2 separate regions of the Homo sapiens genome follow, and region 2 is linked to region 1. The links come from fine-mapping of genetic effects on gene expression. A gene starts in region 1. The other region holds a variant in brackets. All regions are shown on one strand. Distances are from middle to middle. Region 1 holds the start of MLKL (mixed lineage kinase domain like pseudokinase). Region 2 overlaps MLKL (mixed lineage kinase domain like pseudokinase).

The links. PIP is the estimated chance that this variant, and not a neighbour inherited with it, causes the effect.
Region 2: its variant is fine-mapped to the expression of MLKL in whole blood (INTERVAL, PIP 0.91).

What each region holds. Positions count from the first base shown.
Region 1 is chr16:74,692,789-74,709,784 of GRCh38, reverse strand. MLKL (mixed lineage kinase domain like pseudokinase) reads left to right here and starts at 8,923. Exons shown (of 11, transcript NM_152649.4): 1 at 8,923-9,332; 2 at 14,026-14,487. The coding sequence starts at 14,028. RefSeq lists an enhancer at 9,020-9,469 and a silencer at 15,321-15,490.
Region 2 is chr16:74,674,935-74,689,393 of GRCh38, reverse strand. MLKL (mixed lineage kinase domain like pseudokinase) reads left to right here. Exons shown (of 11, transcript NM_152649.4): 5 at 3,811-3,908; 6 at 6,608-6,743; 7 at 10,414-10,495; 8 at 13,630-13,781; 9 at 13,990-14,039; 10 at 14,294-14,434. Among named protein-coding and RNA genes, the nearest start is that of RFWD3, 15 kb to the right of the region's middle. RefSeq lists a silencer at 7,129-7,327. The variant T/C (reference allele first, on the strand shown) is at 10,238.

The DNA of each region.
Region 1 (16,996 bases):
CCCCCGTTGGCTCTGACCTCTGATCTCTGCCTTTGAACTTTGTGTGATTTTTTATTGTGCCCAGCACAATGACCAACTTGTAACAGAGCCCAATAAATGCTTGTCTTGTCTGCATCAGATCTCAGACGGTAAGAATAACTGGGCCTTGCCTCTCCACCTGTTCCCGGCCTCTGCTGCCCTCTGGTGGCAGCATGCAGCCCTACTCCATTATTACTGCCCTCGCGGGGACTGTTTTGGAAGCAGGTATCTGTGATTTCAAAATTCTAGCCTTTCCCAATTTACCCGTTCTGTTGACTTACATTCTTGACTCATCTGCCATTTTTGAGAGGAAGTTGGAAATATGTATATGAATAGTTCTAACTTTCAAAAAAGCCATAATGGTTGCAAAATTTCAACTGGAGTTTTCTTTACAGTTAGGTGTTTTGCCCAAAGACCACACCAGGCTCCAATGAATAAATGTTATCTATAAAGAATGCCACAAGATGAATGTAAAATTTGGAAAATTCCAGGACTCTCATCTCATAAGTGTCTGTCCCATCTCAGACACCTATAGCGGAGAGGAAGAAATTTAAAAGAAGAAAAAAATTTTTGTTCTGGCAAAAGCAGTGGGGTTATATCTTCTTTTAGGTTCCCTAAAAATGGGATTACAGGCGTGGTGGCTCTTGCCTGTAATCCTAGCACTTTGGGAGGCCGAGACAGGCAGATCTCCTGAGGTTGGGAGTTTGAGACCAGCCTGACCAACATGGAGAAACCCCGTCTCTACTAAAAATACAAAATTAGCCGGGCGTGGTGGCCGATGCCTGTAATCCCAGCTACTTGGGAGGCTGAGGCAGGAGAATCTCTTGAACCCAGGAGGCGGAGGTTGTGGTGAGCTGAGATCGCACCACTGCACTCCAGCCTGGGCAGCAAGAACAAAATTCTGTCTCAAAAAAACAAACAAACAAACAAAAATCAAAACCTAAAACAAGCACATGGATGCAGGCAGTCTATTTGGGAGGTGATTGCAGAAATAAAGAGCGAGAACCAGGGAGGTCTAGAAAGGGAGAAGTTGGAGGAGCAGTGTAAGGTTGAGTATGTGAGGTTCTCCTACAGATTCTGTAAGGGCATCTTGAGAAGCACAGAGAAAATGTATCGGAATTGTCCAATAGGACAGGAGGCTGGAGCATTTATCACCAGCTTCCACTCCTATGGGTGAGGACTGTCTTCAGTGACATCGATTCACCCTCACTTAGGGACTTCCCAGCCATGCAAGCCAAGCAGATGCTGGCTTTGGCAAAAGTCCTTGGACAAAAGCAGGAACATAGAGGTATGCATTTGTAGTGGGATTCTATCAGTACAAGTTGAGTATGAGCTTGTTAGGCAGGAGCTAGCCACTGGAACTGTGGCTGAAATGAAAGCTGAGACAGAGTTCACACAGAACCTTCCACCGCAATTGAGGCTAAGACCAGAGGCAGACAGAGGGGGCATGATGAGGAGGAACAGATGTGTTTGCTACAGACCCCAAAGGGTCATATCCTCAATGTAAGAGTGAACCAAGAGGAAACCCACCTCCCCAGGGCACTGCAAGTGAAATCTCCTGCGTGGAGTGGGTAAAGGCTGAGGATGCAGAGCCACAAGGAGAGTCCTCACTGAGGTCTGAAGCCTGAATTCGTGCAAACCGGGTGATCTGAAACACCTCAAGCCAAAATTGTGATGTAAAATAGCCCGGTTGGTGGAGCCACAAGGCTCTCAGAGGAAGCAATTAAAATTGTTTTATGGAGAAATGTATCTTCAATTCAGGCCTCAAAAAAATCCCGCAGGTAAAATTCCAAAGACTAGCCAGGCACGGTGGCTTACGCCTGTAATCCCAGCACTTGGGGAGGCCAAGGCGGGCAGATCGCGAGGTCAGGAGTTCGAGACCAGCCTGGCCAATATGGTGAAACCCCATCTCTACTAAAAATATAAAAAGTAGCCAGGCATGGTGGTGCATGCCTGTAGTCCCAGCTACTCGGGAGGCTGAGGCGGGAGAATCGCTTGAACCAGGAAGGCGGAGGTTGCAGTAAGCCGAGGTTGCGGCAATGCGCTTCAACCTGGATGACAGAGTGAGGTCTTGAAAAAAAAAACATAAATAACTTAGGTAAATGTAATAGGATAAATGTCTATAAATGAACTTTTCATGTAATTTGAAATTTTGAAGTTATGTTAGGTTAAACAAAATAATAGATATTCGTTAAATGTCTGGGTCAATTTGTTTCATTAAAAAATAGTATTTTTTAATGAAATACAAGAACACATTATTTTTTATGAACCATATGAAAAATATTATTTTTTAATGAACAAAATTACTGAATATAAATACAAGTGTGTTCTTTGATGCTTACATTTTGTAAAAGATTACATTTATTGGGTCTATTAATACATCCAAAAATTTTATTATGGAAAAACATGTTTTTAAAAATTATGAAATGGGAGCCAGGAGGACTACTTGAAGCCAGTTCAAGACCAGCCTGGACGACATAGCAAGACCCTTTCTCTATGAAAAAATTTAAAGATTAGCCAGGTGTAGTGGTACACCACCTGTAGTGTTAGCTACTTCGGAGGCTGAGGCAAGAGCATCACTTGAGCCCAGGAGTTTGAGGTTGCAGTGAGCTATGATCACACCACGGCACTCCAGCCTGGGCAATAGAGCAAGACCTTGCCTGGGATAGTGACTCTTTCCTTCAACCTTTTCATCACCTCTTATAACTTTTTTTTCTCCAGTCTAACTCTGCCCTTATAGCCTGACACTGAAATGTTTATCTTAAAGGCCTGGAAGAACAATGCTTTCTTTCACTATACCTTGATTCTGTACTCTTGGCTACTCTTGATGTGTCTGAATTTTTGCCAGAAAACTTCCCATCCTGTTGCTAAGAATCACCTATTCCCCTTATCAAGGTACAAGTTTTCTTGTTTGTTTACTTTCTTCCTTTTTTTTTTTTTTTTTGAGATGGAGTCTTGCTCTGTCGCCCAGGCTGGAGTGCAGCGGTGTGATCTCGGCTGACCGCAACCTCCGCCTTCCGGTTTCAAGCGATTCCCCTGTCTCAGCCTCCCAAGTAGCTGGGACTACAGGCGTGCACCACCATGCCCAGCTAATTTTTTTGTATTTTAGTAGAGACGGGATTTCACCATGTTGGCTGGGATGGTCTCAATCTCCTGACCTCGTTATCCTCCTGCCTCAGCCTCCCAAAGTGCTGGGATTACAGGCATGAGCCACCATGCCTGGCCTACTTTCTTCTATAATACAGTGTACCCTCATAACCTTGGACACATTCTTCTTATGTCTGATTAAATTTTATTACTCTTTTCATCAGGTGTAACTTTCAGGTTATCTAAACAGCCTTCCTATAAAGAGAAGCAATCACAGTACAGGAAATTTTTCTTAATCTTTTTGGTAACTGGCCTTAAAAAAAAAAAACAAAGAATTTATGTTTTACCAAGACAATTTCCTATGTTGTCTTTATTAGGTTTCAGTTACTCAGGAAAACTGAGCTTTAAATTGGTTAAGGTTTTTACATCCATGTAACTTTCTGTATTGCTTTTTATTATTATTATTATTATTTTAGACAGGGTCTTGCTCTGTTGCCCAGGCTGGAGTGTGGTGGCATGGGCTCAAGTGATCCTCCCACCTCAGCCTCCCGAGTAGCCGGGACTACAGGCGCACACCACCATGCCTGGCTATTTTTTTGTATTTTTGGTAGAGACTAGGTTTCACCATGTTGGCCAGGCTGGTCTCGTATTCCTGGGCTCAAGTGATCTAACTGCCTCAGCCTCCCAAAGTGCTAGAATTATAGGCATGAGCCACTGCGCCCAGCTAGCCTCTGGATTCTTAAGGTATATTGGCTTGTAGTTTTCGTTTCTTGTGTCTTTATCTGGCTTTAGTATCAGAGTAATGCTGGTTTCTTAAAATGAGTTAGGAAGTGTTTCCTCCTCTCCTATTTTTGGAAGAGTTTGAGAATGATTGGTGGTAATTTATTTTTAAATGTTTGGTAGAAAACACCGCATGTTCTCACTCATAAGTGGGAGTTGAACAATGAGAACACATTGACGCAGGGAAGTGAACATCACCCACCAGGGCCTGTCAGGTGGTGGGGGCTAGGGAAGGGATAGCATTAGGAGAAATACCTAATGTAGGTGGCGGGTTGATGGGTGCAGGAAACCAGCATGGCACGTGTATACCTATGTAACAAAACTGCACATTCTGCACTGTACCCCAGGACTTAAAATATAATAAAAAAATATAATAAATACAATAAATAAAAGTCTCCAAGAAAGAAAAAAATGTTTGGTAGAATTTACTGTAAAACTATTAGGCCTGGACTTTACTTGTTTGGAGGAGTTTTGATTATTAATTCAATTTCTTTACTTGTTGTAGGTATGTTCAGATTTTCTATTTCTCATTGAGTGAATTAGGTAAATTTTGCGTGCCTGGGAATTTGTCCATATCCTCTAGGTTACCTAATTGGTTGGCAAACAATTGTTCATAGTTTTCTCTCATAGTCCTTTTTATTTCTGTAAGGTAGATAGTAAGGTCCCCACTTTCATTTCTGATTTAAGTTATTTTCATCTTCTTTTTGTTTTAGTTTAGCTAAGGATTCGTCAATTTTATTAATCTTTTCAAAGAACTAACTTTCAGTTTCATTGATTTTCTCTTTTCTGATCTTGGTAATTTCCTCCCTTCTGCTAGTTTTGGGTTTGATTTGTTCTTCTTTTACTAGTTCCTTAAAGGGTAGAGTTGGGATAATGATTTGAGATCTCTCTCTCTCTTTTTTTTTTTTTTTTTTTTGAGATGGAGTCTCACTCTGTCACCCAGGCTGGAGTGCAGTGGCATGATCTTGGCTCACTACAACCTCTGCCTCCTGGGTTCAAGCGATTCTCCTGCCTCAGCCGCCTGAGTAGCTGAGATTACAGGTGCCCGCCATCACGTCGGGCTATTTTTTTTTTTTTTTTTTTTGTATTTTTAGCAGACGGGGTTTCACCGTGTTGGCCAGGCTGGTCTTGAACTCCTAACCTCGTGATCCACCCGCCTCAGCCTCCCAAAGTGCTGGGATTACAGGCATGAGCCACGGCACCAGGCCTCTCTCTTTTTCTCTTTTGTAGCCATGTAGCTATAAATTATCCTTTGAGAACTGTTTTTGCTGCATCCCCTAAGTTTTGGCATGTTGTATCTTTTATTTGTCTCGAAGTATTTTCTAATTTCCCTTGTGATTTCTTCTTTGTCCCACTAGTTGTTTAAGTGTATGTTGTTTAATTTCTGCATATTTGTGAATATTCCAGTTCTCTTTCTGTTATTTATTTCTAGTTTTATTCTATTGTGGTCAAAGAAGATGCTTTGTATGATTTTGATCTGTTTAAATTTATTGAGCAAAATATATCTTCATTTCTCTTGAGAAAATGTCCTTTTTGACTCATGAATTATTTAGAAGCATATTATTTGACATGTGATTTGCAAACATTTTCTCCCAATCTGTAACTTGTCTTTTCATCCCCTTAAAAGGGTCTTTGCAGAGCAAGTTTCAAATTTTGATCAAGTCTGATTTATCATTTTTTAATTTTAAGAATAATGGCTTTGGGGCCAGGCGCAGTGGCTCATGCCTGTAATCCCAGCACTTTGGGAGGCCAAGGCAGGTAGATCACTTGAGGTCAGGAGTTCGAGACCAGCCTGGCCAACATGCTAAAACTCCATCTCTACTAAAAATACAAAAAAAAACTAGCCAAGCGTGGTGGCACATGCCTGTAGTCCCAGCTTGTTGGAAGGCTGAGGCAGGAGAATTGTTTGAGCCCTGGAGGTGGAGGTTGCAGTAAGCTGAGATCACAGCACTGCACTACAGCCTGGCAACAGAGGGAGACTCCGTCTCAAAAAAAAAAAAAAGAAAGAAAAAGAAAAGAAGAAAGAATAATAATGGCTTTGATGTTATGCCTAAGAATTCTTCGCCTAGCCTTAGGTTCTGAAGATTTTCTTCTACATGTTCTACAAGTTTTTTTTTTTTTCAAATGTTTGTGATTTTTTTTTTCAAATGGCAACTCCAAGATAAAGCCAAAGAAACTGGGAATTATTTTTAATATTGTACAATTTTTAGTATGAATAGCCATTCTTATTAAATAGACTCATTTGGCCAGGCAAGGTGGCTCAAGCTCGTAATCCCAACACTTTGGGGGGCCAAGGCATGAGGATTGCTTGAGTTCAGAAGTTCAAGATCAGCCTCAGCAACACAGGGAGACCTCTGTCTCTACTAAAAATAAAAACATTTTAAAGGGCTCATTTAAACTTTTTTCTTTTCTTTTTTTTTTTTTTTTTTTTTGAGACGGAGTCTCACTCTGCCACCCAGGCTGGTGTGCAATGGCGCGATCTCGGCTCACTGCAAGCTCCGCCTCCTGGGTTCACATCGTTCTCCTGCCTCAGCCTCCCGAGTAGCTGGGACTACAGGCACCCGCCACCACATCCGGCTAATTTTTTTTTGTATTTTTAGTAGAGATGGGGTTTCACCGTGTTAGCCAGGATGGTCTTAATCTCCTGACCTCGTGATCCGCCCACCTCGGCCTCCCAAAGTGCTGGGATTACAGGCGTGAGCCACTGCGACCGGCCCTAAACTTTTTTCAAACATTTACATTTTCTCAACAGGAAATGTCCTTTCATTCTGCACAGTTCTCTCTGCTTTCTTCTAAAAGGTTCCTTGTTTTACATTTTACATTTAAATCTCTGATCCATTCAGGCAATTTTTGCATAGAATATGAGGTTTAGGTGAAGTTCATTTTTTTGTTCAGTTACTCCACCACCATTTGAACACCACCTATCTGGCAAAGGATTAATATCTAGAATATTTAAACTCTCAAAACTCAAGTTTTTTAAAAAGAATTCAACTAAAAATGGGCAAAAGACATGGACAGACATTTCACCAATGAGGCTATACAGATGGCAAACAAGCACATGAAAACATGTCCATCATCACCAGGCACTAAAGAAATGCCAATTAAAACCATGATGAGACCAGGCGCAGTGGCTCATGCCTATAATCCCAGCACTTTGGGAGGCCAAGGTGGGTGGATCACCTGAGGTCAGGAGTTCGAGACCAGTCTGGCCAATATGGCGAAACGCTGTCTCTACTAAAAATACAAAAAATAGACAGGTGTGGTGGTGCACGCCTGTAGTCCCAGCTACTTGGGAGGCTGAGGCTGGAGAATCGCTTGAACCCAGGAGGTGGAGGTTGCAGTGAGCTGAGATGGCGCCACTGCACTCCAGCCTGGGCAACAGAGTAAGACTCTATCTCAAAACAAAACAAAACAAAAAACCATGATGATATATCACTATTCACCTGTTAGAATAGCTAAAAATTCAGGCAGGGACAAAATAAAATGCTGCTGAGGATGCAGAGAAACTGAATGTCTTGTACATTGATGGTGGGACAGTAAAAAAAAAAAAAAAGAAAAGAAAAGAAAAAAACTTCCAAAAGGTTATACATTGTATGATTTTGTTTATAGCAGATCAGTATACCCATCCTGCAGCTGCTATGAGTGTTGACAGCTAAACACTCACACAGCTTCCCCCTCGTCCAGAAGAATTGCCCTGGGCAGAAAGGAGGCTGCCTCTTGTTCCAGACCTTCACATTCCAGACCTCCCCATGGAGCCTCCACTGACTACATACTTGTTTCACTTTTTCTTCCTCTGCCCTATCATACCCACCACTCTCCTAAGAGTCTTCCTTCAATAAATCACAGGCACCTGTGTTACTTGTTGAAGGTGTCCAGGTTCTTGGCATCTTGAACAAAGAAATGGGCAAAATGCACAAAGCAAGGAAAGAATGAGGCAACAAAAGCAGAGATGTATTGAAAACAAAGGTACACTCCACAGGGTGGGAGCCAGCGTGAGCATAGGGGCTCAAGAACTCCGTTACAGAATTTTCTGGGATTTAAATACCCTCTAGAGGCTCCCATTGGTTAATTGGTGTACACCCTATGTAAATGAAGAAGATGAAGTGAAGTTGCTCAGTCACTTACTCAGTGAACGCCATATGTAAATGAAGAAAATATTTCCTGTCATAGCTGAAATGTGTCCATTTTATTTAGTTCTAAGAAGTCAGCGTGAATCAGCTTTATGTTCCCTGCCTGCAGACCCTATTCTCCTGCCTCACCTCAATCTCTTCACCTAAGACAGGAAGAAAACTGATGATGCAGGAGACGAAGAACAATAGCAAGGCGAAGAAATGAATCTCCAAGGCCGGCTTCAAGCGATTCTCCCCTCTCAGGCTCCCGAGTAGCTGGGATTACAGGCATGCACCACCACGCCTGGCTAATTTTTGTATTTTTAGTAGAGACAGGGTTTCCCCATGTTGGCCAGGATGGTCTTGAACTCCTGACCTCAGGTGATCTGGCCACCTCCGCCTCCCAAAGTGCTGGAATTACAGGCATGAGCCACCACACCCAGCTCCCAGTTCTGTTCTTTTAGAGGCAAATAGTCTGTTGAGTAAATGCATAACACTACTTAGACTTTCTAGCTGAAGATGTAGTTAATCTTAAGAAAACCTGACTCACACTGTAACAGGATGTTCTGCAATGACCTTAGAAGAGGAAGTGACTTTTTTCCCACTTTGGTGTCTCTTCCCTCGTACCCTCCCCACCCCGCCAATATTATCCAGCACAGAGAAGCAAACACCAGAAGCTTCTCTCCAACTTTCAGTTTTTCTCTAAACTTCCAGTCCTTCTCATACTGTGTCCTGGTTATAATAGTTGCTGGGACCTTATTCTATTCTGAATCCCCAGCCCCTAAAGAAGGCTTGGTACTGACGTGTACAGCGTAGTTACCCAGTGACTTTGGGGAAGGCAGGAAGAGTGTGGAAAGGACAGGAGGAAGGAAGGGAGGGGCCGTGGCTCCGAGCTGCCTAGAAAGCGGCTCCAGGGAGCCAGGGCACCGTGAGCCTGGTGGTTGGCAGCTGGAGCCACGTCGGAGGGGGAAGTGTCGCAGCATTCTCTGCAGGCATCACAGACCTGAGGCAGTGGCCTCCGGAGGGCACTGGACAGAAACAGCCATCCAAGTGGCTGAGTGGAGGGACCCTGCTCAAGTGCAGCTGCAGTGGCCGGGGTTTCCCTCAGGTAGGGATCGGGGCGCCTTGTCGCCGCCAGCCACGTGTGGCGTCCGGTACAGTCAGCAGAGTGCAGGGTGCGGGCACCAGGAAAGGGGGCGCAGGGGAACTCCCGCGGGCCTCGCGTTTGCAAACTTCTCGCCTGGGCAGGAGGCGGTCGTGGGAAAGAAGGTGGAAGAGCGAGCTTTTTGGAACTGTGCACGGGACAGATTGGACGCACACCCCTCGGGAGGCGCGAAGGTGAGCATGGGGTCTTCCCAGGAGGCGGCGGGGCCGAGGGGCTGCAGCCGAATTCCTGGACGGTGATGGGAAGAACCAGGGGTGAGGGTGGCCCGGTCCGAGTTCCTGGAACTCAGGACCGAGTTGGTTTCATTTCCTCAGCTCTGATGGTGGAGCTGCCTGCTCGGATCTCGCACTACCTTCCGCCAAAGCGAGACGCCCAGTAGCAGTGGGGGTCGTGGAGGGCAGGGGCACGGGAACAAGTTACCTGATGTCTTCTCAGAAAAAGGAAGTCTTCAGGTTTGCAGGCTGAAGGCGTGAGAGAGAGACAGAGTGAGAGAGAGAGAAGAGGGAAATGCCTGATAACCTTTACTTATTTTATTTTATTTTTATTTTTTATTTTTTGGAGGGAAGAGGTGAATTTGCATTGTTATTACCATTTAAAGATTTTTCACTTTTAAAATTAGTAACCTGTTTTCTCATCGTAACATATGAACATAATCCCCTTTTTCTTTTTATTTATTTATTTTGAGAGATGGAGTCTTCCTCTGTTGCCCAGGCTGGAGCGCAGTGGCACAATCATAGCTCACTGCAGCCTCCGAACTCATGGGCTCAAGTGATCCTCCAACCAGATCCTCCCAAGTAGCTAGGACTACAAGGTGCACATCACCACACCCAATTAAATTTTTTTTGTATTTTTTGGTAGAGCCAGGGTCTCGCTTTGTCACCCAGGCTGGTCTCAAACTCCTGGGCTCAGGTGATCCTCCTACCTCACCCTCCCAAAGTGCTGGGATTACAGGTGTGAGCCACTGCAGCTGGCCTGAACATATTCTTAGCTGTTTGTTTTACATATTATAAATAGCACTGCAGTGAACATCTCGGTAGCCATCTATCTACAAACACAAGCTTTTCTACATCATAAGTTCCTAGAAATTCAAATTGCCCAGTCTAAGTGTGTATATATGTATATTCCCTTTCTTCCCTTGTAGATCATATACTTAATAAGACCTTAAACAATTTAAGTTATTGTAGGGTGCTTTTTCCCAATATTTTGCAGTTTTTAATATATTTTAATTTCATACAGGCAAGTCCCCTTTTCTTTATTTTTTAAAATCCTGGTTATCCCTACTAATTTCCCATTTCAAATGAACTTTAGGATCATTTTGATTTAATGCCAAAATATGTCAGTAGATGTTTTATTGGAACTGCATTAAATTGGATTTAAATTTGGGAAGGATTGCTGGGTTGGTCTGTTTTAGTCTTCCCAGCCAGAAATATAACACTTCTCTTTCCTCCTTTCTTCAAGCTTTGTTTTGTGCAATTTTCTTTCTTTCTTTTTTTTTGTTTTTGTTTTTGTTTTTGAGACGGAGTTTTGCTCTGTTGCCCAGGTTGGAGCACAGTGGTGTGATCTCGGCTCAGTGCAACCTCCACCTCCCGGGTTCAAGCAATTCTCCTGCCTCAGCCTCCCGAGTAGCTGGGATTACAGGCGCCTGCTACCATGCTTGGCTAATTTTAGTATTTTTAGTAGAGATGGGGTTTCACCATGTTGGCCGGGCGATCTCAAACTCCCGACCTCAGGTGATCCACCTGCCTCGGCCTTCCAAAGCGCTGAGATTACAGGCATGAGCCAATGTGACCGCTGCAATTTTCTTCATACCATGCCACCACTGTATAATTTATTATTTGAAATTGTTTGTCAGTTCTATGGGTGGGATATTTTCCCCATTTTCCTTTCTGATTAGTTCAGTGCTGAGATATGGCTTTCTGATGAGGCTGCTGGTAAGATAACTGGAGCTTAGAGCTAGGAAGCTACAATTTGCAAGATTCCTTGAACAACATTGCCACATTTGCTTCTGTTTCTGGTGCAACAGAGAAAGTGTAAAACCTTTTGCCCTCACAATTCCCAAGAAATGGCCTTGAAGATATCTGCTTAGCACGTGGGAATAGCTGGGTAGTCTGAGATCCACTAGTCTTTTTAGGAGTGCCCTAATAACTGTTACCTCCCTTGCCCAATCACTGTAACTCTCAGGCAACAAAAACACAACTATATCGATTGCTCATTTATTTAGTTTCACTTCTGCCAGTGCCTTACTCATGTTTTAAAGCCATACTTGGGCTCCAGGCCAATTATTTTCTCCAAGCTGCTAATTAATCCATAAACTGGCGATAATACTTAACCTACCTATTTCACTGAGCTGTTAAAAAAAAAAAAACTAACTTTGTTTTTTGTTGTCGTTTGTTAGTGGTGGTGGTGGTGGTGTTTTTGAGACACTGTCTCATTCTGTTGCCCATGCTGGAATGGAGTCAGTGGCACAATCATGGCTCACTGCAGCCTCGACCTCCCAGCCTCAATCAATTCTCCCTCCTCAGGCTCCAGAGTAGCTGGGACTACAGGCAAGCACCACCACATCCAGCAAATTTTTGTATTTTTTTGTAGAGACAGGGTTTCACCATGTTGCCCAGGCTGGTCTCGAACTCAGGCTCATACGATCCCCTGGCCTCAGCCTCACAAAGTGCTGGGATTACAGGTTTGAGTCATGACACCCTACCCTAACTTTATTTTAAATACTTTGAAAACTGGTTCCATGGCCTTGTGATTATTTGAATGCAACCTCCCTGAACCGCAGCATCTTCACTTTTCACCTGTTTGTTTTTTCGAGACAGGGTCTCTCTGTTTCCCTGGCTGGAGTGCAGTGGTGTCATCATAGCTCACTGCAGCCTCAACCTCCCAGGCTCAAGCGATTCTCCCGCCTCAGCCTCCTGAGTAGCTGGGACTACAGGTCCCAGCTAATTTTTGTATTTTTAGTAGAGATGGGTCTCGCTGTGTTGCCCAGAATGGAACTCCTGGCCTCAAGCAATCTTCCCACCTCTACCTCCCAAAATGTTGGGATTACGGGTATGAACTACTGTGCCCAGATGGTATCTTCATCTGTTAAATGAAAATAACCATGGAGAGCTGGGGGTTCCAAAGCACTTAGGATGTAGTAGGTGAATTGAGAGATCTAGTGTCATAATTATTATCATCATTCATTGCTGAACGCAGTCGGCTTCAGTTGCAAATAAAGCAAACATGATTCAAACTGCCTTAAACAATCAGGGAGGTTATTGGTTCATGAAACCTGCAGTTAGGGGATGGGGTACACTTCATGTCAGTTCAAACCAGTGGCTCAATGTTGTCATCAAAGACTCAGATTCTTTCTCCCTTTCCATTCTACCATGCTCAGGTTAGCCTCATTCCAAGCTTTAGGATCAGGGCTCTGTGCTTCCTCACTCATGTTCAGAGAAGAGAGAGAGGTTAAGAGTAGGAAGCTGGCACTGCAGCCTCAACCTCCTGGACTCAAGGAATCCTCCTATCTCAACTTCCCAGGTAGCTGAGACTACGGGTGTGTGCCACCACACCAGGCTAACTTATATATATAATATATATGTAATATTATATATATGTATTACTATATATATGTAATATTATATATATGTATTACTATATATGTAATATTACATATATATTACTATATATATGTAATATTATATATATTACTATATATATGTAATGTATTACATTTTTTTGAGATGGTGCAACCTCCACCCCCTGGGTTCAAGCAATTCTCCTGGCTTAGCCCTCCGAGTAGCTGGGATTACAGGCATGCACCACCACACCTAGCTAATTTTTGTATTTTTAGTAGAGACGGGGTTTCACCATGTTGGCCAGGCTGGTTTCCAACTCCTGACCTCAAGTGATCCGCCCACCTCAGCCTTCCAAAGTGCTGGGATTACTGGCGTGAGTCACCGCGCCCAGCCAATTTTATATTTTATTTATTTCATTTTATTTTATTTTATTTTTTTTATTTTTGTAGAGAAAGGGTCTCACTTTGCTGTCCAGACTGGTCTGGAACTCCTGGCCTCAAGCAATCCTCCTGTCTCTTCCTCTCAAAGTGCTGGGATTATCGGTGGGAGCCACCTCGCCCAGCTGCATTTTTCTTAAAGGACTGTAGGAAGAAACTGAACAATTTTTTGTAGGAAAAATGAAAGATAGTCCACATGTTTTAAAAAAAAACAGAAAGAAACATATTTATCTGTGGCAGTAAAGACTACCTCAGCTCACTTCACTCATTTGAATTACCCGCCTGGCCCCTGAAACCTCTATGCTTTAGCAGGATATATCTGTAATAGACGAAACTGATATAAACATATCAACCTGAAAATATTAACGGTTTACATGCAATACAAGTTTATTCCTTGATCACTTAACAGTCCATGACAGACGTTCCAGGTCTGTGGGCAGCTCTCCTCCAAGTGATTATCCAGGGACTCAGGACTCTTCTTGGGGCTCCACCACCCCAGGGCCGCTTCACCCCACGCATCCAGCCAACCAAGGGAGAGTGTGAGGAGGCGGCACAGCTGCCCCAGTCCGAAGTAGAGCAGGTCACATGCACTTAAACCCCATTGGTGAGAACTAGTCACATGGCCACATCAAGTTGCAAGGAAGGCTGGGAGATGTAGTTCCGGCTGGACCAGCTCTTCCCAGCTACAACTCTATTATTGTGCAAGGGCAGAACAGATTTTGGTGGGTAGCAAACCATCTCTATCTTGCATGAAAATGCTGGGGAGACCTCCTCAGGCATTTAAGTCACAGACCGCTTTGATTCTTTCTTAGCCAAGTAGTGAATATGCAGGAGATTTGGGGATTTCACCAAATTCCATTCATTTCTTCCAGGCATGGAAAATTTGAAGCATATTATCACCCTTGGCCAGGTCATCCACAAACGGTGTGAAGAGATGAAATACTGCAAGAAACAGTGCCGGCGCCTGGGCCACCGCGTCCTCGGCCTGATCAAGCCTCTGGAGATGCTCCAGGACCAAGGAAAGAGGAGCGTGCCCTCTGAGAAGTTAACCACAGCCATGAACCGCTTCAAGGCTGCCCTGGAGGAGGCTAATGGGGAGATAGAAAAGTTCAGCAATAGATCCAATATCTGCAGGTTTCTAACAGCAAGCCAGGACAAAATACTCTTCAAGGACGTGAACAGGAAGCTGAGTGATGTCTGGAAGGAGCTCTCGCTGTTACTTCAGGTTGAGCAACGCATGCCTGTTTCACCCATAAGCCAAGGAGCGTCCTGGGCACAGGAAGATCAGCAGGATGCAGACGAAGACAGGCGAGCTTTCCAGATGCTAAGAAGAGGCAAGCTGGGTCTTTGGTGGGGAGTGGGAGTGCAGTTGAATGCATTTTAGTCTCACTTTAATTTACCAAAGGAGCAGCAATGATGAAGTTTGAGCAGTTGTAATATACTTGTACCTCAAAACTCCTAGCTGGGCGCGATGGCTCTCGCCTGTAATCCCAGCACTTTGGGAGGCCGAGGCGGGCTGATCACTAGGTCAGGAGACTGAGACCATCCTGGCTAACACGGTGAAACCCCGTCTCTACTAAAAATACAAAAAATTAGCCGGGCATGGTGGCGGGCGCCTGTAGTCCCAGCTACTCGGGAGGCTGAGGCAGGAGAACAGCGTGAACCCGGGAGGCAGAGCTTGCAGTGAGCTGAGATCGCGCCACTGCACTCCAGCCTGGGCGACAGAGCGAGACTCTGCCTCAGAAAACAAACAAACAAACAAACAAACAAACAAAACTCCTAACATCCTTTGGCCCAGATATATGGTGGGGGCTGGTGAAATTTGGGCAAGCCAGCGTTGAAGAGGAGTTTTGTTTTGTTTTGTTTCATTTTTTGAGACAGGGTCTCTGTTGCACGGGCTAGAGGACGGCGGCACAATCATAGCTCACTGCAGCCTCAGGTTCAAGTGATCCTCCCACCTCAGGCTCCCGAGTGGCTGGTACTATAGGTGTGCACGCCACAATGCCCAGCTAATTTTTATTTTATTTTTTGTAGTTAGAGAGTCTCACTATGTTGCCCAGGCTGGTGTAGAACTCCTGGCCTCAAGTGATCCTCTTGCCTCAGCCTCCCAAAGTGCTGGGATTACAGGCACCTAGGAGGTCGAGGCTGCAGTGAGCCACGATTTCTCCATTGCACTGCAGCCTGGGCGACAGAGCGAGATCCTGTCTCCAAAAACAAAGGATGGAGGGGGCCGGCGTGAGAAGTAAATCTCCCTCCTTGACCTCAGGGGCCCCTGTTTCCCTTTCTGAGGACATGAGACCTTCAGTACTAAAACTGGGGAAGTCTGATGGAAACCATATAGACAAAATGATAATCTCATCCATTGTTGGTAGGATATTTGTGCAACCTTTATCAAAATCTGAGATACAATCACACAATCTACCAGTTTCTTGAATACCCTTCTGGAGATTTAAGTATATATATTTTATTGTTGTTGTCACACAGTCAGCATCATGCCAAGCACATTGTTCTATTTCTTCTTTTCTCATTAAATAATCTTAAATATCCTCCCATGTAAATATCCATTGAATTATATAGCTTGTTTTCCTACTTGGCATCTACCCTACTGTTTTGTTTTGTTTTATGATCATACTAGCAGCACACAAATTCAAAAACAACCCAATACATACACCCATCATTTTTTCCCATTTTTTGTGATAAAATATACATAACATAAAATTTACCATTTCGGCCAGGCGGGGTGGCTCACGCCTGTAATCCCAGCACTTTGGGAGGCCGAGGCGGGCGGATCATGAGGTCAGGAGATTGAGACCATCCTGGCTAACACGGTGAAACCCCGTCTCTACTGAAAATACAAAAAATTAGACGGGCGAGGTGGTGGGCGCCTGTAGTCCCAGCTACTCGGGAGGCTGAGGCGGGGGAATGGCGTGAACCCCGCGGGGCGGAGCCTGCAGTGAGCTGAGATCGCTCCACTGCACTCCAGCCTGGGCGACAGAGAGATTCCGTCTCAAAAAAAAAAAAAAAAAAATTTACCATTTCAACCATTTTTAGATGCCAGTTCAGTGGCATCAAGTATATTCACATGGTTCTGAAACCATCGCGACCATCCATCACCAGAACTTTTTTTTTCTTTTCTTTCTTTCTTTCTTTCTTTTTTCTTTTCTTTTTTTTTTTTTTTGAGACAGAGTCTTGCTGGAGTGCAGTGACACGATCTTGGCTCACTGCAACCTCTGCTTCCTGGGTTCAAGTGATTCTTGTGCCTCAGTCACCCCAGTAGTTGGGATTACAGGCATGTGCCACCACACCCGGCTAATTTTTGTATTTTTAGTAGAGACGGGGTTTCACTATCTCTACTGACCAGTTTGGCCAGGCTGGTCTCAAACTCCTGACCTCAAGTGATCTGCCTGACTCGGCCTCCCAAAGTGCTAGGATTACAGGCATGAGCCACCACGCCTGGCCTATTTCAAGATATCTTTATGAGAAATTCCCAGAAGTGGAATTGCTAGGTAAAATCACTAGGTCAAAGACTGTAGGCATTTCAAATTTTGATAGAAGTTGCACAGATATTACTTCTACCAACTATGCATGAGTTATCTGCTTCTCTATACTTTTCCCATAAGAGACTTTCCCACTTTTAGTAGTCAGGGTTTCATGTCCCCAGAGCTCCTCAGTCCTGGGCAGACAGGGATGGCTGACCACTGTAAATAGTGTGTTATAAATTTTCAAACATGTTTCTGAGTATATAAATCAGGATTGATTTGATTATGCTGTGGTTTAAAAAACAACAACTCAGTGTTCTAAAGAAACAAGTTTATTTCTCATTCAGGCAAAGTCCAGGGGACT
Region 2 (14,459 bases), 19 kb after region 1:
CTGTAATCCCAGCACTTTGGGAGGCCAAGGAGGGCAGATCACCTGAGGTCAGGAGTTCAAGACCAGCCTGGCCAACATGGTGAAACCCCGTCTCTACTAAAAAATACAAAAATTAGCTGGGCATGGTGGCATGAGCCTATAATCCCAGCTACTTGGGAGGCTGAGGCAGGAGAATCACTTGAACCTTGGAGGCCAAGGTTGCAGTGAGCTGAGATCGTGCCACTGCACTCCAGCCTGGGTAACAGAGCAAGACTCCAACAAAAAAAAAAAAGAAAAAAAAAAGAAAAAAGGAAGGAAGGAAGGAGAAACCCTATACCCACTAGCAGTCATTCCTCTTTCACCCCTATCACCACCATCCTGAGCCCAGGCAACAGTCCTACCTTCTGTCTCTATAGATTTGCCTTTTCTGAATCTTCAATGTAAATGGAATAATACAATATGTGGCCTGTTGAGTCTGGCTTCTTTCACTTAGCATGATATTTTCAAGGTTCATCTATATTATAGCAAGTATCATTTCTTCATTCCTTTTTATGGCTGAATGATAGTCTGTTGTATGGATATCCTACTTATCCATTAATCAATTGAAGGACCTTGTGTTTTTTCCACTTTTTGATTATTATGAATAATGTTTCTGTGTACATTCATGTACAGGTTTTGGGGGTTTTTTGTTTTGTTCTGTTTGAGATGGAGTCTTGCTCTGTCACCCAGGCTGGAGTGTAGTGGTGTGATATCAGTCACTGCAACCTCCATCTCCTAGGTTCAAGCAATTCTCATGCCTCAGCCTCCCGAGTAGCTGGAACTACAGGCATGCACCACCAGGCCCAGTTAATTTTTGTATTTTTAGTGGTGACAGGGTTTCACCATGTTGGCCAGGCTGGTCTGAAACTCCTAACCTCAAGCAATCCACCCACCTTGGCCTCCCAAACTGCTGGGATTACAGGCTTGAGCCACTGCACCTGGCCCTCCTGTGTTTTCTTCTAAGAGTTTATAGTTTTTGGCTCTTATATTTAGGTTTCCGAAGTTAGAGTTAATTTTGGTGTATTGTATAAGGTAGTCATTCAACTTCATTTTTCTGCATGTTGATATTCACATGTCCCAGAGCCATTTGTTTAAAAGACTGTGCTGGCCTGGCACTGCAGCTCACATCTGTAATCCTAGCACTTTGGGAGGCCGAGGCAGGTGGATCACTTGAGGTCAGGAGTTTGAGACCAGCCTAGCCAACATGGCGAAACCCCATCTCCACTAAAAATACAAAAATTAGCCGGGCGTTGGCTGGGCGCAGTGGCTCACGACTGTAATCCTAGCACTTTGGGAGGCCAGGGCGGGCAGATCACCAGGTCAGGAGATCAAGACCATCCTGGCTAATATGGTGAAACCCGTCTCTACTAAAAATACAAAAAATTAGCCAGGTGTGGTGGCGGGCACCTGTAGTCCCAGCTACTCAGGAGGCTGAGGCAGGAGAATGGTGTGAACCTGAGAGGCAGAGCTTGCAGTGACCTGAGATCACGCCACTGCACTCCAGCCTGCTTGACAGAGCAAGACTCCATCGCAAAAAAAAATAGCCAGGCGTGGTGGCAGGCACCTGTAGTCCCAGCTACTTGGGAGGCTGAGGCAGTAGAATCTCTTGAACCCAGAAGGCAGGTATTGCAGTGAGCAGAAATTGCATCGCTGCACTCCAGCCTGGGTGACAGAGCAAGTTCCAAAAAAAAAAACTGTGAAAAATCAACTGGCTTTATATGTATGAGTTTATTTCCGGACCCCCAATTCTATTCCATTGATCTGTTTGTCTAGTCTTATGATAGCACTATACTGTCTTCATTACTGTAACCTTGTGATAAGTTTTGAAATTGAGAAGTATAAGTCTTCCAGCTTTGTTCTTCTTTTGCAAGACTGTCTTGGCTATCCTGAATTCCTTTCATTTCCACACAAATTTTAGGAATATCTTGTCAATTTCAGTTTTTGTTTTTGCTTTTTTTTTTTAAGCCAACTACAAATCGGGTAAGGATTGCATTGAACCTGTAGGTCAATTTGGAAAATGTTACCATCTTAATGGTATAAAGTCTTCCTATTCAAGAACATGGGACGTGTTTCCATTTATTTAGATCTTTTAAAATTTCTTGCTGGGTGCAGTGAGTTATGCCTATAATCCCAGCACTTTGGGAGGCTGAGGCAGGAGGATCACCTGAGGTCAGGAGTTCGAGACTAGTCTGGCCAACATGGTGAAACCCCGCCTCTACTATAAATACAAAAATTAGCCGGGCATGGTAGCAAGCGCCTGTAATCCCAGCTATTCGGGAGGCTGAGGCAGGAGAATTGCTTGAACCCAGGAGGCAGAGGTTGCAGTGAGCCGAGATCATGCCATTGCACTCAGCCTGGGCGACAAAAGTGAGGCTCCATCTCAAAAAACAAACAAACAAAACAAAACAAAATTCTTTCAACAATTTAGGTACAAAATTTTCAGGGTGAGACTTGCACTTCTTTTGTAAATTTATTCCTAAGTATTTTATTCTCTTTATGCTATTGGAAATGAAAATTTTTAATTTAATCTTTTGATTGTTAATTGCTAGCAGATAGAAATACAATTGATTTTTATAGGCTCTGAACCTGCCCTGATTCTCTGACAGACCTTGGACAAGCCTCCTTTGCCCTTTGAGTCTAAGACTCAGAGTGAATGAACAGATTGGATTGAGTTGGTGGTTCCAGTGATCCTCTTTAATAATTTACCTGCCTACATTTTTTAAGGCCCACGTTTTGGAAGGAATTTTGGTTATAAGATTTCACTTAATAAATATCTTTTTTTGTGTGTGTGTGGAGACGTAGTCTCGTTCTGTCACCCAGGCTGGAGTGCAATGGTGTGATCTCGGCTCACTGCAAGCTCCACCTCCTGGGTTCACGCCGTTCTCCTGCCTCAGCCTCCCAAGTAGCTGGGGCTACAGGCGCCCGCCACCACACCCAGCTAATTTTTTTGTATTTTTAGTAGAGACGGGGTTTCACCATGTTCGGCAGGATTGTCTCGAACTCCTGACCTTGTGATCCACCTGCCTCGGCCTCCCAAAGTGCTGGGATTACAGGCATGAGCCACCACGCCCGGCCTAGTATCATTATTTTTATTCATCAAAGACACACACCACGGGCTGGGCACGGTGACTCACACCTGAAATCCCAGCACTTTGGGAGGCGTAGGCAGGCAAATCACTTGAGGCCAGGAGTTTGACACCAGCCTGGCCAACATGGTGAAATCATGTCTCTGCAAAAAAAATACAAAAATTAGCCAAGCATGGTGGCACGCACCTGTAGTTCCAGCTACTCAGGTGGCTGAGGCATGAGAATTGCTTCAACCTGGGAGGTGGAGGCTGCAGTGAGCCAAGATCGCACCACTGCACTCCAGCCTGGGTGACAAAGCAAGACCCTGTCTCCAAAAAAAAAAAAAAGACACACACCACAATCTGTCAGAGTATATGCTAAACAACAGGTTACAGCCTAAAAACAGTAACAAATACTTGACTTTTTAGTTTGCCTAGTAAAGCCCTGTAGGTCATAAAAATACAATTCTATCAGACTATTTGAACTACTGAAAAGATATTAGCAAGTCCCATTAATATCTGACAGACCCCGAGGGACTAATTGTGCTGCCACAGGCACCTGAGGGGTTCCACATGTTGTTATCAGTAGCTGAGTTCATCCTGGCACCAGTTCTCACCCCAGATGCTGATACCCCCGCCCCCACATACACAGAGGGTCACCACACTGAATGTTCTCTAAGGAACCTTCCAGTTCTGAAATCCTGATTTCTCTCTTTAATCCTTATAGAATAGTGAGGCAGACTTTCAATAAGGAGATCAAAACCATGAAGAAATTCGAATCTCCCAACATCCTGCGTATATTTGGGATTTGCATTGATGAAACAGGTAAGGAATGCTTCTAGGATTGGTCAAGCTTTGGATGGCCTAGAACACACCTCCTGTGTTTTAATGTGTTGCATTTTTTTAAAGAACATCACAAAGGGTGGAATCCACAAAGTGTGATTATTATCAATGTTAATTTTTTTTTTTTCATCCCAAGATGCATGTTCTCATCTTCTTTCAGGAGGGCAGGGCTGAAGGCTGAGGGGTGGTTTGCACTAACATGGCCACATCTTCTCCTTTCAGCCCACTGGGAAATAAGGGGGTGCATGTTTAGATGCCAGCCTGGAAGAGGGGTGCATCTTGTTGCTCTAAAACATTATAAAGCTGCCAGGTGCAGTGGCTCACACCTGTAATCCCAGCACTTTGGTAAGCCGAGACAGGCAGGTCACTTGAGGTCAGGAGTTCAAGACCAGCCCAGCCAACATGGTGAAACCCCATCTCTACTAAAATACAAAAATTAGCTGGGTCTGGTGGCAGGCATCTGTAGTCCCAGCTACTCGGGAGGCTGAGGTGGGAGAATTGCTTGAACCTGGGAAGCGGAGGTTGCAGTGAGCTGAGGGTGCACCATTGCATTCCAGCCTGGGCAACAGAGCAAGACTCCGTCTCAAAAATAAAAATAAATTATAAAGCTGTCTGACCCAAAGAAGGAAAACACCCTTGGTCATCATTAGTATAGAACAAATCTAAAAGCAAAATTAACTTACCTGGCCAGGCGCTGTGGCTCAGCAGCACTTAGGGAGGCTGAGGTGGGTGGATCACAAGGTCAGGAGCTTGAGACCGTCCTGGCCAACATGATGAAACCCCGTCTCTACTAAAAATACAAAAAATTAGCCGGATGTGGTGGCACATGCCTCTAGTCCCAGCTACTCGGGAGGCTGAGGCAGGAGAATTGCTTGAACCTGGGAGGCGGAGTTTGCAGTGAGCCGAGATCATGCCACTGCACTCCAGCCTGGGTGACAGAGTGAGACTCTGTCTCAAACAAACAAAAAAAAAAACCATTACTTTACCCCTCTACCAAGAGCCTTATGTGACAGGCTCTTTTTTTTTTTTTTTTTTTCTTTTTTTCCCAATGTGACTGCATTTTCTCTCATGGAATGACCCCTCCTGCTGGTCATGTTTTGCTGCCGTCTTGCCTAGAGATTGGACAGAGCAACTCCTGTCTTATCCCCTTTGGAAGTTGCTCCACAGCCTCAGGCCAACTTGATTTCAGAGTGTGGAATCCCAATCTAAAGGGAAACGTAGGCCAGGCACGGTGGCTCACATCTGTAATCCCAGCACTTTGGGAGGCCAAGGTAGGTGGATCACCTGAGGTCAGGAGTTTGAGACCAGCCTGGCCAACATGATAAAACCCTGTCTCTACTAAAAATATAAAAATTAACTGGGCGTGGTGGTGGGTGCCTGTAGTCCCAGCTACTCGGGAGGCTGAGGCAGGAGAATTGCGTGAACCTGGGAGGCGGAGGTTGCAGTGAGCCAATATCATGCCACTGCACTCCAGCCTGGGTGACAGAGCTAGACTCTGTCTCAAAAAAATTAAAAAATAAAAAATAAAGACAAATGTTCAGCAACGTTTGTTCTCCTTGGGGACCGCTGAGGTGCCTGGCTCAGTCACATGTCAGTTTTGCAGCTCAGGCCCATGAATGGGGAAGTCGACTTCTTGTCTGAGTCCTCACCCGCCCCTGCCATGTGTGCCCTACTCATTCCTCCCACACAGATGTACGAAGCTTCTTGTGAGCACCCATGTGAACAAGACAGACACATTTCCTGCCTTCTTGGGAATCCAGTTGAGTGAGGAAGACATTCGCCAAATAACTGCTCAAGAAAATTTTGAATTATACCAAGAAAGGGAGATAGAAGTTAAAAAAGAAAAAGAAAAAGAATTTTTTTTTTTTTTTTTTGAGACAGAGTCTCATTCTGTCACTCAGGCTGGAGTGCGGTGGTACAATATGCTTACTGCAGCTTCCACCTCCGAGGTTCAAGCAATTCTCCTGCCTCAGCCTCCCTAATAGCTGGGACTACAGGCATGTCCCACCACACCTGGCTAATTTTTGCATTTTTCATAGAGACGAGGTTTCATCATGTTGGCCAGGCTGGTCTCGAACTCCTGGCCTCAAGTGATCCACCAGCCTCAGCCTCCCAAAGAGCCAGGATTACAGGCGTGAGTCACCACACCTGGCAGAACATTTTTTTTTTTTTTTTGAGATGTAGTGTCACTCTGTTGCCCAGGCTGGAGTGCAGTGGTGCAATCTCTGCCACGCAGCTTCAAGTGATTCTCCTGCCTCAGCCTCCCAAGTAGATGGGATTACACGCACCTGCCACCACACCCAGCTAATTTTTGTATTTTTAGTAGAGACATGGTTTCACCACGTAGGCCAGGCTGATCTCAAACTCCTGACCTTGTGTTCCACCCACATTGGTCTCCCAAAGTGCTGGGATTACAGGCATGAGCCAACGCACCCAGCCAATTTTTTTTTTAAGGTAGAATTACGACAAGCCAAGTATTATGGAGAAGAGGATGGGAATTCTGGGCATATTTGGTCCATTCAAGGAGGCCGGGGACCAAAACTGTGGGCTGAGGATTGGGGGAGAAATGGGACTCAGCAGAGCCAAGTCTGTATCTGTACCGAGGCTGGGAGAGGTGGGCTGCAGACATGGGAAGCTTCAAGTAGGGCGGGTCCTCATAGTGTCTGGCTCCTTTCCACCAGTGACTCCGCCTCAATTCTCCATTGTCATGGAGTACTGTGAACTCGGGACCCTGAGGGAGCTGTTGGATAGGGAAAAAGACCTCACACTTGGCAAGCGCATGGTCCTAGTCCTGGGGGCAGCCCGAGGCCTATACCGGTAAGACGGGGTGAAAAGGCGCCACTAAGGGTTGGATGGGTCTGTCCACACTCCTGATACTCCCAGAGATGGTGAGAGAACAGGCCAGACGCCCCAGACAGTCTCCCTCCCATACACTGTTTTACTATTTACTCTGATTACAGATAGGAGGGAGGAAAGAGGCTTAACCCAGGGAACACCAGCTCCCAGAACTGACGGTTGAAATTGATGTCCACACTGCACTTATAGAGTTGGATGAGCCCTAATTTTGGAGTGGACAGATTTAGCATAAAAATGAACATATCCAGTTAAATTTGAACGTTAGGAAAGTAATGAATCATTTTTTAGTATAAGTGCATCCTAAACATTGCATGGTATATACTTATACTAAATATCAAAAATATCAAATTTTATTTTATGTTTTGAGACAGAGTCTCACTCTCTTGCCCAGACTGGAGTGCACTGATATGATCACAGATCACTTAACCTCCCGAGCTGAAGGGATTCTCCTACCTTAGCCTCCTGAGAAGCTGGGACTACAGGCGCACACCACTACACTCAGCCAGTTTTTTTTTTATATATATTTTTTGTAGAGATAAGGTTTTGCCATGCTGCCTAGGCTGGTCTCGAACTACTGGGCTCAAGCAATCCTCCTGCCTCAGCTTTCCAAAGTGCTGGGATTACAGGCATGAGTCACTGCACCCAGTCTCAAATTTTGGATAAACATTTATTTTTAGTACAACTATGTCCTATACAATTTGTGGGCATGCTTGTACATATATATATGCGTGTACGTGAATCTATATATTCATTGCTTATCAGAAACTCAAATTTAATGGAGTGTCTTGTGTTTTTTTCTTTTCTTTTTTTTTCTTCTTGAGATGGAGTCTCCCTCTGTTGCCCAGGCTGGAGTGCAGTGGCACGATCTCGGCTCACTGCAACCTCTGCCTCCCAGGTTCATGCCATTCTCCTGCCTTAGCCTCCCGAGTAGCTGGGACTACAGGTGCCTGCCACTACGCCTGGCTAATTTTTTTGTATTTTTATTAGAGACGGGGTTTCACCATGTTAGCCAGGATGGTATCGATCTCCTGACCTCATGATCCACCTGTCTCGGCCTCCCAAAGTGCTGGGATTACAAGTGTGAGCCACCGCGCCCGGCCGTGTCTTGTGTTTTATTTGGCAACTCTACCTATTCTCACCTGCAGAATCTATGGATTCTTAGTCCCAAGGGTCCCCAAAGGTTAGTCACTCACAAACCATCTGCAGGGTTTTAACTATACTACTACCAGTGTTATTTACTTAACATTTTTCATTACATTGACTCACTTTTTAAAAATCGGAATAAAGGCCTGGCCCAGTGGCTCACGCCCATAATCCCAGCACTTTGAGAGGCCAAGGCAGGTGGATCACTTGAGGTCAGGAGTTGGAGACTAGCCTGGCCAACGTGGCGAAACCCTGTTTTTACTAAAAATACAGAAATTAGCCCAGCATGGTGCCACAGGCCTGTAATCTCAGCTACTCAGGAGGCTTGAGGGACAAGAATCACTTGAACCCAGGAGGCGGAGGTTTCAATGAACTGATATCGTACCACTGCACTCCAGGCTGGGCGACAAAGCAAGACTCCATCTCAAAAAATAATAATAATAATTGAAATAAAGCTTTTAAAAAGGACACTTTCTCTTACTACCATAAATTGAAAACCAGTGTCACTTGCCAAAAATAGGTAACCACAAATGAAACCAAAACAATGTAATTAAATTCTGGCTGGATGAGGCTGCCTGCCAGAAGCTCTGTGATCCAACCCACATTCTCTTTGTACAATGGAGATATTGGAGATATTGGCAGAGTTAAGGATACCCAACACCAAGGCTGGGCGCAGTAGCTCACGTCTATAATCCCAGCACTTTGGGAGGCTGAGGCGGACAGATCACAAGGTAAAGAGATCAAGAGCATCCTGCCCAACACGGTGAAACCTCGTCTCTCCTAAAAATACAAAAATTAGCTGGGCGTGATGGCACGCACCTATAGTCCCAGCTACTCGTAAGGCTGAGGCAGGAGAATCGCTTGAACCTGGGAGGCAGAGGTTGCAGTGAGCTGAGATTGTGCCACTGCACTCCAGCCTGGGCGACAGAGCGAGACTCCGTCTCATAAAAAAACAAAAAACAAAAAACAAAAACAAAAAAACAAAAAAAAAATACCAAACGCAGACTTTCTTCTTGATGTAATCAGAAAGACTGGAGCAAACTGAAAGGAGAGTAATTTTCCCTTTATATAATCTTGCATACCACCTTATCCCACACTTTTGGAAACACTGTCTTAGCTATTAATTTGAAATTAAGTTTGTTTCTTCTCAACTCCCTAAACTAGTGAGTTTAAGGAGAAGTATTTTTGGATGTTGTAGGGGACACTGTTAATATCCCCTCCAAATGACCTCTGATCCTTTTTACCAGCTCTATTTACCCATCCCCCTCTCGGCATGCTTTGCTGCTGAAAGTTCACAGCTGCAATCTTCAGAGGATTGCCTGTGGGCACTGGAGCCCTTTCACCCTTATAGACAGCTGAAAGTGCCCACGAGTTTTATATCCATCTGTCCCTGCCCTCCCCAACACAGTCCATAACCACTGACTGGTGTAAGTATAAAAGTCCAGTTCCTTTGCTTCCTGTGGGACACACTCTGAGGTGTAATTGTGCCCACAGGTCTCCGCGAGACCACCTGAGCCTGGGATTTCACCTGAAATCAACCTCTTGCTTGATTTCTTCTCCTTCGCCATCCTACTTCCTGTACTCCCTCAACCATTTCTCCTGGGAGCACCTTCTTTTTGTTTGTTTGGGGGACTTTTGGAGTTATTTTTTTTTTGAGACAGAGCCTCATTTTGCTGCCCAGGCTGGAGTATAGTGGCGTGATCTCGGCTCACTGCAAACTCCACCTCCTGGGTGCAAGTGATTCTCATGCTTTAGCATCCTGAATAGCTGGAATTACAGGCACATGCCACCACGCCCAGCTATTTTTTTGTATTTTTATTAATAGTAGAGATGATGTTTCACCATGTTGGCGAAGCTGGTCTCAAACTCCTGACCTCAAGTGATCCATCCACCTTGGTCTCCCAAAGTGTGGGGATTATAAGCGCAAGCCACCATGCCTGGTCAAGGGAGCACCTTCTTGATACAAATCCCTCGTGCCCAAATCATGGCTCATGATCTGCTTCTGGGAGAATCTGAGCTCAGGCAGACACCATGAGTGCAACCCAACCTGGGACGCAGGGGCTTTGTGAAACCAAAGCCCTTGTCTGGAAGTCAGCGGGACCCCAGCTTCACATTCTGCTTTGACCTGAAGGGTCCCAGCAAGGTCCAGCCACCCAGCCATGCCTCTGAGCTCTCGGATCTGCCCAGCACTTCCCAGGCAAAGCAACACAGAGGCAACGTTGTCCTTCTCTACCTAAAGGCACCCCTGATGCCCGATTGCATGCACTTCATAAGGGCTGTCATGCCCCCTTGTGCTATGAATCTCATCTCTG[T/C]TCTATACTCACGGCTTGTGATTCTCAAACCTTGCCTCTACATCCCAGTTTTTCCTGTGTAACTGTGGACAGGCACCCATGGTACTGTCCAGCCTCATCAGCCCAGTTATGATTGTCAGTCCCCCAAAGAAAGTTTGGGCAAAGGTACTTATGCTCCCCGCCTTTGGCTGTGTCAGGCTACACCATTCAGAAGCACCTGAACTCCACGGAAAAATCAGAAGCTCAAACTTCCTGGTAACTCAAGGCTACCAAGTGAAGGTGAGTGTGCCTTGCGGGGGCGCTTTGGGTCAAACCTGCATGACTGGTGCTATGAGAGGGGCACGAGTGTCTCAGAAAGGCTTGATTCTTGTCTTAGTTTATTTATTTATTTATTTAGAGACAGAGTCTCTTTCTGTCACCCAAGCTGGAGGGCAGTGAGCGAGATCGCCCCGCTGCAACCTCTGCTTCCCAGGTTCAAGCGATTCTCCTGCCTCAGCCTCCCAAGTAGCTGGGATTACAGCCATGCACCACCACTCCTGACTAATTTTTGCATTTTTAGTAGAGACAGGGTTTCACCATGTTGGCCAGCTGGTTTTGAACTCCTGGCCTCAAGTGATCCGCCCACCTGGGCCTCCCAAAGTGCTGGGATTACAGGCATGAGCCACCATGCCCGGCCTTGCCTTGGTTTTAGAACTGAGTTCAATTTTAGTTTTTTAGTTTCAGAACTAACTTCAACTTTCTGTGTGCCCACCACACAACAGTCTCCATCTATGCCGCCTGTTCTGATGACTGCCTTCCCTCACTGCCCATTTAGCAGGGATGGGCTACAAGTCATTTCCCCTTAGATGCCTGGACACCACTTCTATGTCCCTACAACATACAATGGGGGATCTTGTTAGGTTTAAGGACTCAGACTCACAGGACAGGTCTAGGCCACACTTGTCATTCAGTTACTTAGAAGGATGTCAGCAGCGCCAAACCTTTCCCTCCAGGGTGAGTCCTCGCAGTCATCCAGGAGATACTCTCTTTGTCAGAGCCACAGGTGCTGGAGAAAGAGGCTCCCATTAGGTGGGTGTGGGTCATCCAGGCTTAGAAGCCCATGACCTGCAGGAGTCAGCATCTCTGGTAACAACTCTGCAGGCATGCCTTCCAGTGTTTCTGCAAGTGACATGTGAGTTGCTGTTTTAAGAGCTGCCACATCTGGGTATGGTGGCTCACGCCTGTAATCCCAACACTTAGGGAGGCTAAGGCGGGTGGATCACCTGAGGTCAGGAGTTCAAGACTAGCCTGGCCAACATAGTGAAACACTGTCTCTACTAAAAATACAAAAAATTAGCCGGGTGTGGTGGCGCACGCCTCTAGTCCCAGCTCCTAAGGAGGCTGAGGCAGGAGAATCACTTGAACCCGGGAGGCAGAGGTTTGCAGTGAGCCGAGATCGCGTGGTTGAACTCCAGCCCGGGCAACAACAGCAAAACTCCATCTCCAAAAAAAAAGAAAAAAGAAAAGAAAAGAGCTGCTACATGGCCAGGCATGGTGGCTTATGCCTGTAATCCCCGCACTTTGGAAGGGAAGGCAGGAGGATCACTTTGAGCCCAAGAGTTCAAGACCAGCCTTGGCAACACAGTGAGACCTCCCCCTCTTCAAAAAATTTAAAAATCAGCCAGTCATGGTGGTGCACACCTGTAATTCCAGCTACTCAGGAGAGTGAGGCAGGAGGAGGATGCCTAGAGCCCAGGAGGTCAAGGCTGCAGGGAGCTATGTTTACGCCACTGTATACCCTAGCCTGGGCAACAGAATGAGACCCTGTCTCAAAAAATAAAAAAGAGGCTGGGCGCGGTGGCTCACACCTGTAATCCCAGCACTTTGGGAGGCCAAGGCAGGTGGATCATGAGGTTAGGAGATCGAGACCATCCTGGCTAACACAGTGAAACCCTGTCTCTACTAAACAATACAAAAAATTGGCCAGGCGTGGTGGCAGGTGCCTGTAGTCCCAGCTACTCCGGAGGCTGAGGCAGGAGAATGGCATGAACCCAGGAGGCAGAACTTGCAGTGAGCTGAGATTGCACCACTGCTCTCCAACCTGGGCGACAGAGTGAGACTCCGTCTCAAAAAATAAATAAATAAATAAATAAATAAGAAAAATTTGCTACAAAGCATTCCCATCAGCTGTTTACTGTGTAGTCCTGTTACCCCCTTGATCCTGCCCAGAAGCAATCTAACAATCAGCAGTCATTTTTATTTTCATCATCAGCAATGTTACTAAGAGCCATAGGTGACAGTCTACCTGTATCAGATTTCCAGGGGAACAGAGCTAAGAAGTTCACTGGAAGTCAGATTTTCATACAGAAGAGGAAAAGATTTTGTGAACTCAGTGTCCACAATTCCCAAATGCTAAAAGAATTTTAGCAGTTTTCTTTGTCATCCATAGACGGTTTTCTTTCTTCCAGTCCTACGAGTGTCAGAGACAGCCCTCAAATAATAGCAGACAGGCCTTTTTTGCCTTTCAGATGCCTTTCCCCCTCTGCGATGGTGATATAAGTACTCCCAAAACACTGTTTCTACTACTCTCACGCTCTTCATGCAGCCTGACTATAAGATGCGCTATTCCACCTTTCATCCCTGGTATCCCATACGGCGCTAGATGTAAGAGAATGTCAGTGCTCAGGAAACGTGTGAGCAAATGAATGAATGAATGAATGAAAGGGGGATGAGCCATCTAAGTGCCTTATCCCTTTTCTCACATTGCCCCTAGATTTGGGTACCTGGCTGAGTTTGGGGCTGGCAGCCTTCAGCACACCAATGGTGTCAATGGCAGGTGTGCATGGGACAAGAACATATGCTGTCATGATTGTGCTACAGTTTCTTTAAGAACACCAGGTGACCGCGCAGGCCTGGGGGGATGACTCACACTCGTCACGCCAAAGCCAAAGGATCAGGCTGACCCCCCATAAAGTCAGATAGCACAGAGGGGATGCCCCCATGCCATTTTTCCATCTGCTTCTTTGGGAAAAGGCGAGCCAGGCAGTGGCTCTATGACCCCTCTCCACTCTCACTGAGTGGAGTTCAGTCCTCAACTGAGAAACCCCTACATTTTAACATAGTCATACTGGCAACAACTACAACTTAGCAGGTCTTACTGGTGCTTTATAACCATTATCTCAAGTAATCCCCCCTGTCATCGCCCCATTTTATACAGAAGAAATCTCTTTGTGTTTCTCTTGGTCACTGCACTGTGATAAGTTGAACCCATAATGTTAACCAATAAAGTAGCCACACAGACAGAAGTCACGACAGGAAATAAATCCCTAAGGTAAAAGACAATTCCCTGGCAATTGTGTGTAGCAACAATCCCTGCCCTTTACTCCTCTACCCAAGATCTTGCTTGTTTCTTTCTAAGTTGCCTCTCTATCTAGCTTGCAGGATTTGAGTTGAGGAAAACACAGACTTCCATGAGTTTGGGAACTACGAGAGAAAAGACAGACAGAGTCAAATCTACAGCATATCTCTCACCTCAGGAACTGGAAGATGTATTTTATCAATATGATGTAAAGTCTGAAATATACAGGTACACTCACGTTCTGGTACAGATTCTAACTCAGATGTGCATAATAGGAAAACCCAAATCAAACTCCTCCAAGGACCACCTAAACTCAACTCTGTTGAATGAAATTGGGTAGTAATCAAAAAATTCACTGAGTTTTCTGGCAGTGGCTAGAGGGACAGGGGAAAGGGGAGACTAGTTATGGTTGTTCAGTTTCTTGGTTTTCTTTTAGCTTTGGAATCGTCCTCTGGGAAATCGCCACTGGAGATATCCCGTTTCAAGGTGAAGAATGTGAAGACTGGCTCAGCCAGTGGTGAGGTTGGGTCCCCTTCCAGTAGACCAGAAATTCCCCATCAGTGCTGCCCCTGGCAATTTGTTGTTTAATGTGGGAACTGCCTGGGCTGGTCAGTGGAATCGTTGGAAGTTCTTGTTGTTTCCATACTCAGAGTCCCTAGTTCTGATGCCAGCCATCAGCATCCAGAGAGATGTACGAGTAGCGGAGCAATTTTTTGAGGCTCTCATGCTATCATTTCCAGGCTGTAATTCTGAGAAGATCCGCAAGCTGGTGGCTGTGAAGCGGCAGCAGGAGCCACTGGGTGAAGACTGCCCTTCAGAGCTGCGGGAGATCATTGATGAGTGCCGGGCCCATGATCCCTCTGTGCGGCCCTCTGTGGATGGTAGGGTTCTTTCTGGTGTAAAGAG